Homo sapiens: one gene and its partner. The protein of the gene in region 1 interacts with the protein of each later gene in a pairwise test. Each region holds a gene or a part of one and is shown on either strand. Other genes may lie near its edges.

Region 1 (6,736 bases):
CTTTGACTTTCAGTCTTTAAACTGCTTTCATTTAATCTAATTAAGTTGTATGTAGATTTTCTATATTAGTCTTACACTTAGTTTTTAGTGCTTTCTATATTTTATTATTTTATCTTTCCATTCTTTTATTCTCATTGGTTTTAATATTTTTGTTCTATTTTCCCTTTTATAATCTTGTTACTTTTATGTTGAACTCTTTTGTCAAAAGCCCCTTGTTGGGAAAGTCTAGAGACTTTGTATATCAAATACAAAGCACTGTGCCTCTGAGCCTAGGATTTGCTGTTACAAAGAATTAATGAGAAGGTGGCTAAACTGCATAGGAAAACCATTTCTGTATTTATAGAGTAAGCTATTAATGCCATTGTAAGAATTACCAATATAGTGCTTTGTAAGTCCTCTAAGATCTGCATCTGTCACATTTGGCCAGACCCACTTGAACAGTCCTTTTCATTAGATGCTAATTACTGGCTTCTGTGCGAGGGACAGAAAGATTATTCACACAACTCACATCCACACAACAGCCAATCCTGTTAGGCTTTGACCTTCAGCTTTCAGCTCTGTATTTACTTTATTACATAAACATAAATATTATATTGTGATGTATATTCTTTTATATATTTTTTTCAAATACATAACTCTTATACATATATATTTTTATATATATAATTCTTAAATATATATTTCCAAATATAAATTATTTCATGTCAAGCTAAACAGGATAAAAACATGTAAACATATACACTTGGTTTTGGTCAAGTAAAACACAAAATCACAAGTTCATCACAGTTTAACAAGTGCACTTGAAGGGGAAGGAGGGAAAGAACAAACTGTAAACAAACAGATGAGCAGCTGCAAAGCCCTGCAAGGGTCCATTTGTTAAGGCTATTATAGCACAAAGCTACTAGTTCAATTAAAACTTCTCCTTTCACTCTGCCACATTTACTCTTGAGGGTCTTCAAAATAAGTGTGGAAATTCAGTAAACACTACACTAGAACTGAGTTAATCCTGTTGACAACAGAGATGACAAAAAAAAGCCATAAGCTGACATTAATATTAATTTCACCAAAACAGTAACTTTAAGGACTTATTTTTTAACACAGATAATCACCATAATCCTAGGGGGAAAGATATGCAGAATAGACAAGAAAACAGAAGCACTGCCTCAACAGCCCCTGAAAGCAGTAAGAGTGTCAACACAGGGAAAACAGGCAATAGCAGACGACAGAACCTCAGCAGACTAGACCACATGCCACAGCACGATGCTACAGAATCAAATTGAAATATTCTTCCAGCTCATAATGAAGCAAGTCCCACTGGTCCTCAGAGAAGGGTAACTCATCTCTCAGTGAAAGAAACCGCTTAAACAACAGACTGGCCAGCCGAAGCACGACAAGCTCCTTCTTAATGCTTTTATAGAGCATGTTGCCCTCTCCCATTCGCACAGGCTCCACAAGTTGATGCCAGTATGCGCTGAATGACCCACCACCTGGCCCAGGAGGCTCATCTCCCCAGCCCTCAGGGTATTCATGCTTGTAAAAGCATGTGTCTCCAAATGGGCAGTTACCCCTGCCTTCCGCAAAATACCTGCAGGCCTTGTTGCTCATTGCCTCCTTGTATTGCTGAATAAGTTTCTGCTTCTCTTCCTCCTCCTCCACCCAGAACTCACTGGGAATGACCAATTCAGAGGTGACCCTGCACTGTGGGCAAGACTTGACGATCCTGTTCTCAAACTGTCTGGCACTTCTCCACCTGCGGATACACCTAATACAGAAGGAATGGTTGCAATTGGAAAGAATGCCAAAGCGGCGGTCATTGGGGTTGGCCTTCTCATAGACAACCTCCATGCAGATGCCACACACCTTGTCCATACCACGCTGCACAGCAAACGAGAGTTCCATATCTTTCTCGTGTGCTTCAATGCAGGCCCTCATATGTTCTTCCCTCTGGGCAGCATCCATGGGGTGCAAGGTCTGCAGCCCACACATGTCGCATATGTCTCCATGGAGGTACATACAGCTCTCCCCACGAAAGCAAACTCCCCTGGAAGCATAATAGCAAAACCGCAACCCACTGCCCACAGCCATCTGCTTCCTCTCAGTCTCTGAGCTCTGTAGAGGAGCCTCGGGGGCAGATGCAACCCAGCGGCCCCGGTAGGGCTGCCCTGGAACAAACTCAATGGCATCCGCCCAGCTTTCTACACCTGCTCCTCCAGCAGCTCCACGGTCTGCATTGTCTCTCTCGGCTTCAAAGAAACCCCTTTCAGCAGCCGAGCCAATCACAGGCAAGGAAAGGGAGGATGCAGCCGGGGGGGCTTCCGCCACTTCCTGAGTCGGGGGCTCGATGTGCGCAGCCGTGCTAGGGCCTCCACCTGCAGAGGCCCCAGGCGGCGAAACGCCACCCTCAGTGGCCATCTTCCGACCAGAAAGGTCGTGCGAATAGCGACAGTTCTCCCCCTCCTTGCACTGCCCATGTATATAATACCTGCAGATGATCTGCTTTGTCCAAATGCCGCTGCTTCGGCTTGGCAACGGACTGGGCCAGGCTCCTCCTCCTGAGGCTGGGGCAGGCCTCAGGCCTCCTCTGCGGAGGTGGGCAGGGACTGGAGCTACAGGGAAGGGGGCCCAGCCCCTTGCCGCATGTGGCAGGGCTGAATCTGGAGCAGCAGATTCCCCGGAGGGCTCACAGACGGGAAGGTCCGGCCCAGACACACCCTCCCTTGCTGCCTCAGCACCTGCCTGGGCCCCGGCTGCCTCGTGGGCTTCTGAGGGAGCTGCAGGCTCTTCCATGGCTGCTTTGGCACCCCGAAATGGTGCCAGAACCTCTCCGGTATTTTTTCTTTATGGGCTTGAGGCCCGGAATGGCGGCCGCGCTCGGAGGCTTCTCTGGGGGAAGTGTGCATCTCTTTTTCCTTCCCCCCTGCTTTTGGGTCCCTCTGACTGTGTGTTCCTACCTACTTCCGGGCACAGGCAGCATGGCGGACACTTCCTGTGGGGGCAACGTACGTGCTCTGCCTGGTTTTTACCGCAATTTTCCAATCTGACATATTTTTTCGTTCACACAGGCGGGGACCAACCCAGCCCCTTTTGTCTGCCTTCTGCCTCTGCTTCGCTGTGTTCCGGCAGTCCCTAAGTCCCTTCTCACACGATTTCCTCAGGAGAATGAGGTTTTACTTTAATCTCTTCTGGTTTCGGTCATGCACGCTTCGTTGTATTTTCGTATCTGTCTGCCTTAAAAAAAATATAATCCTATAGATTCTGAAACATTTCATCCATGAATTATATAAATTCTTTTTTTATTCACTCCATCTTATGTCTGTGGTTTTTTTCTTTTAATGCCCGATCGCGGCAGGAAGCTTTTTTCAATTCGTTCGGTTGACAAGGCGCCGTTTCTTTTGGTCTTTGTTTTCTGGGATTTCTGAGGGCTTACACTGGATACGCTTTTCACCAGCAAGGCATTAGCAGAGAGCACTTCTGATCCGAGGCTAAGTTAGCACCTTTCAGATGTCTTTCTTTATTGTGATTACTATGCTCATTTTCCCACTGTGTTAGAAGCGCCAGACTTCAACCAGTCCTGATGCTGGCCTAATAAGACACTGTCCCCTGCATGACCCAGGCTTTTATTTTCTCTACTGGTTTAATTCATGGCAGCCCTTTGTTTCCCTTCCTTTCTTTCAACCCCATCTGTGCTGTGTTGTGGCAGGACAGCCTTTCATAACATATCCTGTGCCATATTATCCACAAAGGAATGGTCTTTAATTTCCATGTATGAGCGTTTTGTCATTTTTGCAGATAAATGTAGTAGATTAATCATTTTTTTGTATTCCTACTTTGCTGAGAGTACGTATCATGACTGCATACTGAATTCTGTTATGTAGTTTTATACATTTTTTGAGACAATTTTGTTTTTCCCTTTATTCTCTTAATGTGATTATTTGCAGCTATGAGTTTCAAATATTTAACTAACCAATTTGTTTCTAATAAGAAGCCCTTCTGTCATGATATATCATTTTATATATTATTGGATTTTTTTTCTATAAGTTTCTTTGAGGAAATTTTGTTGCCTAAATCTGTAAAGTGGAAACATATCTGAATATTTATAATCACCCAAGTCAACAAATTAAATTATAATTAAGTAGGTAAAAGCAATGAAAGCAGAATGAAGCAAATAATAAGGGCAAGAAAAGCAATGAAGAAAAACAAATATTAAATAAGGGAAATAAATTAAGTAAAATCCCTTAAACTGCTTATTGAAGCCAGATAATTTCTGGTGAAATTTATCAAGGAAAAATGAAGAAGGCTCTAATACCCAAGATCAGTAATTTCAAATATGTTATCACTACATTAATAACAGACATTAAAAATCATTAGAGAATATCAGGAACAAAGTTAGGAGATAAAACTTGAAAAGTTACATGAAATAGTCATATTGGTGGAAACATCTATTAGTAAAAATGACAGGAGCAGAAATACATGTGAATATGGATCTGTTAAATTACATCTGTAATTTAGATAATTATCTAAATAAAGGTCTCTAAAACTTTCTCTCTGAAATAAATCTAAAGGCAAAAAAAATCTGTATTTATTATTGCAAGTCCTAGCTAGTGTAATAGCAAAGAAATAAAAGATGTTATAACTGGAAAGAAATTATTGATGGAATGCAACAGAAAATTGAGAATAATTTACAGATAAGCTATTAGATTTAATAGGTACATTTAGCAAGGACACTGGACAGGAGTCCAATATATGAAAATCATTTTTATTTCTCTATCATCAATAACATTTGAAGTAAACATTTAAAATTAATAACATTCATAACAACATTAAAAGTTAGCTAACCTAGGAATTAAACTAATTAAGGTTATACAATAAAATTAAAAACATTTTAGCTTCAGAAGACCTAAATAAATTGTGGGATACTTTATATATAGTCTTTATAGTCGGTCAGTAGAAGGCTCAATGTTTTTAAAAGGTAGTCTTTTCCTAATTTGATAATTATTTGAAAATGGTGCTGATTATTCATCGTGAATGTAGGAAATGTTGGATTTATCTTTCTCCTTTTCATAGTTACCAAGTTTTATATTTTGCATGCAAGCTGTCCCAAAGTCTGCCTCACTTGAACTTTCTGAAACAAACTTTCTCTTTATCAGGATTTGTTTGTCAGCCCCAGTGATTTTTACAAGAAAAAGACTTGCAGCACAGCTCTCAGGCTTCTACGCCAAGCTCTCTACAAATTCACAAACATAAGAATCCTGAATATAAAATTATTACTGGCTTAATTGTGATATTTTCCTAGCACTGCATCTATTATTTGCTTAATTGTGATATTTTCCCAGCACTGTATCTAAATCATATTTGACCCTCTCTTGATGCACCAGCACTGTCCAGAGGAACTTTCTGTGAAGAATTTATATATATGCATGCTGTACAGTATGAAAGCTAGCCCCATGGGGTTCTTGGGCACTTGAAATGAGGCTAGAGTGACGGAGGAAATGAATGTCCATTTTTTAAATTATAAATTTAAATAGCCACATGAGGCTAGTAGTTACTGCATTGGAGTGAAGTTCTATACAATATTTGACCATCTCATCTCCTAACACAAGGGAACTGAGAAGCATATGTTTCCTCACCTGCCCAAGGCTATGCAGCTGGTGCCAGGCAGTGTTTGCTTCCAAATGCCCACCTGTGTGGCTGCCACTGGTGTTCATGTCTTATAGTCTGATAGTGACTTTATCTTTTAGTTTTGTCGTGACAATATTTCATATAAACTGTTATAAGCCAATATTGTATCCCATGATTTTAAATACCATAAAAAATTGAATAACTGGAAATAACTGGGCAGTGCATCTTGAGAAAAATAAACTAGTTCCCATCCTATCCAAATGTCTTCAGAGATCATTTCCTCTGACTGCCATTGTCTATATTCCTGCCATGATATATACATATGTATATTTTTTGAGCATCAATATTGTTTTTACAGTTCTCAGAAAGTAGACATTTAGTCATTTGTCTAGTTATTTGGCTCAGCTGTGCCTTCTTTTCTAACAAAACACTGACAGCCTCAGAGGCTGGGACCTGGTTTCCTTGTGCACACACCAGTCTGCAGGGTAGCATGGGATCCCCTGGCCGGTCAGCATTTGGGGGTCCGAATGGAATGAGTGCAAGGCTGGGCGATGGCAGAGCTGAGGTGAAGTCCGGGCAGTCTAAGAATATCCTAAGAGGAGGGAGCAAGTTCAGAAGTGAACTGCAGGATGGAGAGAAGCTGCAAAGTCCTGCAGTTTTTTACTCCAAACAGCTCAGGCATGCGCTGCCTAGCCCCGTGTGGTTAACATGTCCGTATTTAAAGAACACACAATTAATTGCCTAAAAGCATTATCCTTCTCAGCACTCTCCTATCCTTCAGATCTAACCTTTAGGCACTGCCGGCTGCCGGCGGGGTCCAGGACCCAGCGGGGCTGGGCGCGCGGAGCAGCGCTGGGTGCAGCGCCTGCGCCGGCAGCTGCAAGGGCCGCAGAAATTAAACGCGAGTGTCCAGAATCGGGCATTGTGGGTTTAAATCCTGAATCCACTGGTCACTATCTGAGACTTTCCCCTGTCACAAATTAGTTACCTTCTTTTATCCCATCTGACAACGGGAATAATAACAGCAAGAATTACACCGACTAGTTCACAGGTTTGCTGTATTAATTAATTTATAATAATTCATTAATTCTTATAAAGTGATTGGAACGATGCCTGA
Region 2 (7,309 bases), on another chromosome or scaffold:
TGCTGGTGCTCCTGAGGGGACCCTTAGGGAAGCCCAGGGCCCCTGCGGATGGGAACCTCCCTCCACCAAAGTCTGACCCTGAAGCATGCAGGCCGTTCAGCCGAGGGTGTCCCTGTACTCCTGGGTGGCCAGCTGCTTAGTGTGAATGGTCTCTCTGCATTGCAGGGCCATCGGCCACTCGCCAAAAAGAGAGCTGGTGCATTTGGGTTTTGCTGAGACTCGGAATGCTGGAAGATTCTGCCTGAGCCCAGCAGGCTCTTGGCTTTGCTATCCCTTCCCAATGCCCTTGGCTGTCAGTTCTCTGGAAAGTGGCAGAGAGGAAGGAGCCACAGTGCTGCGTGCCGCCACCAAGGGGAAAGCTCTTCAACCAGGTTCAGAGCCAAGTCGCTGAGAGTTGCTTCTCATCCTTAGCACATTTCCTACCAGGGGCAGGATGAGTTAATTTTCGGGATGGGGATCTAACTGGCTGGCGGTTTAAAGGGCCCTTCTATTTAGCAGCCATGAGGGCTGCTAGAGTTCCTATCTCCCATTGAAGAAGGGGCTTCTTCAAGCAGACAGACCAAACATCATTTCAAAATGAGGACTGCATTTGAAATCTACTGAAGGGGGTGATACCGGGGGCCTGAAGCCTGGGGTTTGAGCTCACTTCTAGGGTGACCAATTCTTCTGTTTGCCTGGGACTGTGGGGTTTCCTACGACAGGATTTTCAGTGCTAAAACTGGAAAAGTCCTGGGCAAATGGAGATGAGCTGCTCACTCTAGTTTGACCCCATTCTTTCTGTGTTCTCACCAACTTTCAGTCTTTCATTTTGCAGATTGAGAGAATCAAGGTACTAATAAAACCTGCTGTCCCCATCTCCCAAACCCGTGGGACTCAAAAGAGCTGACGTCAGTATCCCATGGCACCTTAAGCCTCCCCATCAGGGCACATCCCACTGCTGACACACCTCTGCAGGCCTCTTCTTCCTCTCAGTTTGAGCTTTCTTGGGTGAGACCCCTTTATTCATCTCAGAGCATTCCTGGGCTTGGCTAAGAGCAGAAACTCGGGAAAGCTGTGCTTATAAAGCAAAGCACAAAGCATTCCCACCTGTTGGTTGGTGTCCTTCTTTTCTGTCCTGCCCTGGTTAGCCCCATGGGAAGGTCCTCTACAGGCTCCGACAGACAGGCGTGCCCCTGAGGGCGGCTGTCAGGAGGAAAACAGGGCAGCACGGGCAGGAGGCTTGGTCACTGCTTTGTTCTGAACGAGGCCGGGACAAGGAACCAGACAAAAGGTGGACAGGTATAGTGAGCAACCAGGGAGGGCCTGGTGGGGAGGTGAGGAAGCAGCAGGTCCCCACCCTGGGGAAGAGAAGGGCTTTAGCTGGAATCTTAACAAATAGGCCAATCTCATCCTCCAGCCTCTGGGACTCCAGCACGGACTCCCTTGGCTGCCTGCCTCCCTGACTCTCTCAGAGGCTGCCCATCCCTTGCAGCTCCTTGCGGGGCTGCCTTCCTGGGGGGTCAGCCAGATCTCAGCATGCTGAGTTGTCTGTCCCCTTGGCCTGGACATGGCCCAGCTCCGCAGGGTGATATCTGGTGGGCAGTCTGCCCCAAACCTCAGCCCTCCATCTCCCCCTCACCCCTTGATTCTCCCATCCCAGCCGCAGGCCTGCTTCTCTGCCTCTAGGCTCCTGGACACATAGGGTCTTGGCTTTGGGTGGCCACCCAGGGTCCCAGCTTCAGTCTTAGCTCTCAGAGCCTTAACCTCAGCTGAACTTCCCTGGTAAGCGAGCCCTGTGGCTCTAGGACCACTTGGGGCTGGCCAAAGCATGGTGGGGAGGAGGATGACTCAATGGCAGCCTGATTCAGGAAAGCCCCTCACCAGCCCTCGCCAGTCTGCACCCAGAGGATCCATTTCACGTGTCCTCCAAATCCTGGCTGATCCTGTTTCATTCTCTTGCTGGACACCCTTTCTGGGGCCCAGGAGTGCTGGGACACAGACATGGTCCCCATCACCAGAGAATCCTAGAACTCTCAGTGGAAGAAACCCCAAAGGTAACTGGTCCAGTCTCCTGCATTTGGATGGACTAGACAGAAATTCATGCTCAGAGCACCTAGGCACAGAGAGGGTGAGTAACTTCCCCAGGGTCACACAGTAAAGGAATGATCAGCTGCTCCTGAGCCACCTACCTGAACTCTCCTTTCTCCGCCTGGATGATTTCTTCTCTGTCTCATTGGCAGTGCTCCCAAGCACCCCGTAGTCATCGCCTGGGCCTCCTGTGGTGTCCACCAGGCCCAGGCTGCTGGTCCCCATTTCCTTGGAACCCCCTGCCGGGCCTGAGTTGGGCCTGCGCCGGGCGTCTGAGACAGGGAAGTGCCAGTTGGGGGACTGTGGGAAAGCGGGGTGCTGCTCAGTGAAGATGTGCTCCTCCTGGGGCAGGCTGTGTGGGGTGGCTGCCAGGCAGGAGGCTGAGAAGTCAGGGTACGCTGCCGTCGCTGTCGCCAGGAAGTCTGGTTTCTGGTGGAAGGAGAACGGGGTGGGCGGGTAGTGGGGTAGCCCTGAGGCCCCATTGCCTTCCGAGTGGGGGTTTCGAAGGCAGCCCCAGACAGGGGCTGGGGGCTGGAGGCTCCTCATGCAGCTGCTGGCCGCGGGATCCATCTGCTGTCCGCTGCACGCCTCGGTCCTTTCAAAGATTTGATTCTTTATACTTTTTATGTTCAAATTTTTAAAAATGCAAAAGAAAAAAAACTAAATAGGAGGGAAAAATGTTCAACAGAAAATTTACCCCAGGAACCAAAAAAAAAAAAAAACCCAAAACTAAAGTCTCTCCTTAAAGTACACACACATGTGGCCAGCTACTCCTATGTGTGTGCACACACCTATGTCGGGCTTGCTCCTGCCCCTCCAATGCACCAGCCTACCTACTGGGATCCCCTGTATGTGTATTTGTCGCCAATGACACTAAACATTTTCACTGTCCCAACCCAGACGCACCAGCTGACGAGGAGTTCGTCCTGGAGCCCAGAGCAAATGCCTGCAGAGGGCTGGACCAGGGCTGCTGGGACACACTTTTAAATCCTGCGGTGGGGAGAGAGTGACAAATTTCTGAAGTGAAATGTGAGAGAGGAGAGGGAGGGGTTAACCCACACACACAAGATCCCCTCCAACCAAAACCCTAGCAGGCAACTATTAATCATCAGAAACCTTATATGCACATCTAATGGGATTTGCAGATGGAGACTTTTAAAGAAACATTGTCTGTATTTTTTTTTTAAGGAAAGAGAGCAGCACACACACACATACACACACACCGTCTTTAATGTGCCTCCTGTAACACTATGAAGTTATTTTTATTGCACTGTTAACAAAATTCCCCAAGTCTTGGATTTAGAAAAAGCCTTAAGTCAGATCCAGAATCCATCAAATGCCAAATTCCAGGGAGTGAAGTGAGGAATAAGAGCAAGAGACAAGCTTGGTGATTGCATTTGATTTAAAGGCCCTTCTACTGCTGCCTGCGAAAAAGGAAGGTGGATTAAAAGAAATCTTTTTTGCAAGTCTCAGCGGCCCACTGTGGTCTGCAGTACAAAGAAAGGCACACTCTAGAAAAAAAGAATTTCTCTCTGCCCAGAGTGACATTCTCACTTTCTCAGTAACTTAAAAAAACAATCAGATTCTTCCTTCCGCTCTTTAACCTCCAACATACATGCCAATTAGCCACACTCTTCTCTAGAGAGGTTTCAAGTCATTTTTCTTCACAGCAATGGCAAGGCTCTTAAATAAGGTCCTTGAAGTTTCTTCGGGTCTCCTCCCACCTGCTCCCTGCCCCCTTCACCTCCACCCACCTGCTTCCCTTTCTCATCCCCCAGAGGCGGAGGCTTCCGAGGAATTTGGGGTAGGGAAATAGGAATCAGGGGCTCCTCATTCCCCAAAGGAGCCTCTTTGGCAAGCAGGCACGTGGGTCTCCGGGCTGGTGCACATCACAGGGCAGCCAGCCCAAGTGCCATCTTGATGCCCAGTCTTCCTCATGGCTGCGCCCTGCTGGTCTCTCAGAGGGTTAATGCAATTTCTTGGAGGACGACATTCCTAACACCCAGGGGCCAGAACTCCTTCCCCACTGGTTATTCCCATGGCCCAGAGCAGCAGGATGGGGGCAGAAACAGGCATGGACCTTAACAGCAGCGTCTCTGCTGGCTGCTTCCAAAGACGGCGAGGGTTCCCTGAGGAGGGGCCCCTAGGTCTTAGCTCTGCAGCCTGGAGGTGGGGCCCTGGGGGGTGGGTGCAGGAGATGCTCCTAGGAGGAGCCGAAGGGCACCCAGGGATGTGGAATGAAGCCACGACTGGCCTTTAATCCAGAAACTCCAGTCAGATACACATCCTGGGAGCAGGAGCAGCTGTAAAAGATGGGGAGGGGTGTACATATGAAAAGATGTGCCCTCTTCTGGAACAAGCGGTCAGAGTGTTGTAGACCAGTAGAGTGGATGGGGTCATAGCTGTCAACCAGACTCATCTTTCTGCTTTGCCCAGGGCTTAGCTGTGGCACACACAATTCTCTGAGCCTCACAACTTTCCTAGGATGGGTAAGTAAGAATTATGTCTCCATTTTGCAGATGACAAAACCGAGGCTCAGATGGATGACTGGGCTGCCCAGACTCACACAGCTAAGAAATGGTGGAATCAGCACTTGGCCTCAGGTGTCCTGCTGTTCAGTTTGGAGCAGGCCAGATGCAGAGGAGGAGGCATGGGGTTTGAGGTTAGACGGGTCTGAGTTCAAGCCCCAGGTCTGCCACTTCCTGGCTGTGTGCCCTGGAACAAGTCACCTTATCTCTCTGAACTTCTTTTTTTTTTTTTTCTTTTTGAGATGGAGTCTCGTTCTGTCGCCCAGGCTGGAGTGCAGTGGCATGATCTCAGCTCACTGCAAGCTCCGCCTCCCGGGCTCACGCCATTCTCTTGCCTCAGCCTCCCGAGTAGCTGGGACTACAAGCACCCGCCACCACGCCCGGCTAATTTTTTGTATTTTTTAGTAGAGACGGGGTTTCACCGTGTTAGCCAGGATGGTCTCAATCTCCTGACCTCGTGATCCGCCCGCCTCGGCCTCCCAAAGTGCTGGGATTACAGGCATGAGCCACCATGCCTGGCCATCTCTCTGAACTTCTGTTTCCTCATCTGAGATGACAGTCAGAGTGGGATCTGTGTAAGGCACTTTGCACCTTACACATTTTTACCCCCACGGATTCCCACAAAAGCCTTCTGAGGCAACAGTCATTCTCATCAGCTCCGTTTCTCTCTCTCTCTTTTTTTTTTATCAGCTCCGTTTTTCAGCAGAAGACTCTGATGCACAGATAGACTGTGTAACCTGCACAAGGCCACACAGCAGGGAAGCGGCGGACCCAGGATTCAAATTGAGGCAGCCCAGCCCACAGACATTTGCAAATCTTCAATGAAATCCTTTATGTAGGCCAGGCACGGTGGCTCAGACCTATAATCCCAGCACTTTGGAAGGCTGAGGCAGGCAGATCATTTGAGGCCAGGAGTTCAAGACCAGCCCGGCCAACATGGTAAAACCCCGTCTCTAATAGAAATACAAAAATTAGGCCGGGCGCGGTGGCTCACGCCTGTAATCCCACCACTTTGGGAGGCCGAGGCGGGTGGATCATGCGGTCAGGAGATCGAGACCATCCTGGCTAACACAGTGAAACCCCGTCTCTACTAGAAATACAAAAAAAAAAAAAAAAAGGCGGGCGTGGTGGCGGGCGCCTGTAGTCCCAGCTACTTGGGAGGCTGAAGCAGGAGAATGGTGTGAACCCGGGAAGCAGAGCTTGCAGTGCACCGAGATCACGTCACTGCACTCCAGCCTGGGTGACAGAGCGAGACTCCATCTCAAAAAAAAAAAAAAAAAGAAATACAAAAATTAGCTGGGTGTGGTGGCACATGCCTGTAATCCCAGCTACTCGGGAGGCTGAGGGCAGGAGAATCGCTTGAGCCTGGGAAGCAGAGAGGTTGCGGTAAGCCAAGATTGTACAACTGCACTCCGGCCTGGGCGACAGAGTGAGACACTGTCTCAAAAAAAAAAAAAAAGAAAAAGAAAAAGAAATAAAGAAAGAAATCCTTTATGCAAAAGGCAGAGTAAGTAATGGACAAATGTGGCTCCCTTCCTAGCACATCTATTTCTGGTTAACCTCGATGATCCCAAAGGGTGAACCTGGGAATGGGGAGTTCTGAGGAAATTCTACAGAAACAGCCTTGTGAGGTCCTTTGTGGGGGGCACGCTGTGCTGTGGGGGTTCTGGAAGGAATCCGTGGGAGGCTGGGAGGAAGATCTGGCTTGTCAGCTTCCCTAGGAAAACCTTCCCCTGGGCTGGCCGCAGGCTGTAACCGGATTCCTGCTCCACCTCTGCATCTGGCCCAGGGACCTCATGGCAGGGAGGCCCAGCGCCTGGCCCTTTGCCCCTGGACGGGGTGGGCCCTGGGTCATGGTGGGGTGGGTGGGGAGGTCAGGAGGGCCATGGGGAGGGGGCGCGGTGGGGTGCTTTGCCCTGAGAACACAGGCCTCTGGCACCCCGGAGCCCCCGGCAGCTGCTGGCGTCTGTCAGCCACCTTGCGGGGCGCGGCCGGGGGCTGCTGGCCCCTACATCTTCCTGACAGGCCCCTCTTCTGAGGCCAGGAAAAAACAACAACAGTTCCTCCCCTCACGGCAACCCATTTGTTAGATGAAGGCCGGGCACCAGCACCTTTAACCTCCTCAAAGTCAGCGTTTCCCTGTCAAGGCCCCACAGGGCCAGAGACAGAGATGGATGGAAGGAGCTGTGTGTCGAAAAAGCCCTGTGGCCTCATGAGGAGAGCTCTGTTTTCAGGAAGGGAGGGGACCCCGGTTTCTGATTGTTGGGGAGAATAAGGGGAGGAAGAGGAAAAGTGTGAGTCACGAGGAGGTCCCCCAGGGGCGTGGGGGGGCCCAGGAGGGCTTTCAGCCTGGCCACACCTGAGCCATCACGTGGAACTTGCGGAATGTCTCCCATTGTGCGTGGCAGGCAGGCGTGTACTTGGCAGGACAGGGCTGCTTCTGTTTGTGGCCACCCCACCCCCTTGTGCTTGGAGAGGCAGGGTGTCAGGGCAAGGCCCTGGACCTGGAGGCAGAAGACACGGGTTCAAGGTGTGACCTTGCCTGTTACCGGCTGTGTGGTCTCAGGCAAATCACACCCTTCTCTGAGCTTCATTTTTCTCACTGGCAAAATGGAGTTGACAGTTCCGGCCTCACCTGGCGGTTAGGAGGATAAATGAACTGCATCTGAGAACAGAGCTGGCTGACTATAAAGGGTGATGCATGTGAGGAATAG

What was found.
Region 2: the proteins of MKRN3 (region 1) and MEOX1 interact in binary tests that used the Homo sapiens proteins (3 or more experiments, as listed by UniProt).

The regions. Positions count from the first base shown.
Region 1 is NC_000015.10:23,561,834-23,568,569, reverse strand, and holds MKRN3 (E3 ubiquitin-protein ligase makorin-3), read right to left. Parts: upstream 2,897-6,736; 5' UTR 2,788-2,896; coding exon 1,264-2,787; 3' UTR 526-1,263; downstream 1-525. UniProt on the Homo sapiens protein: E3 ubiquitin ligase catalyzing the covalent attachment of ubiquitin moieties onto substrate proteins.
Region 2 is NC_000017.11:43,658,898-43,666,206, forward strand, and holds the start of MEOX1 (homeobox protein MOX-1), read right to left. Parts: upstream 3,026-7,309; 5' UTR 2,638-3,025; coding exon 2,169-2,637; intron 1-2,168. UniProt on the Homo sapiens protein: Mesodermal transcription factor that plays a key role in somitogenesis and is specifically required for sclerotome development. Required for maintenance of the sclerotome polarity and formation of the cranio-cervical joints.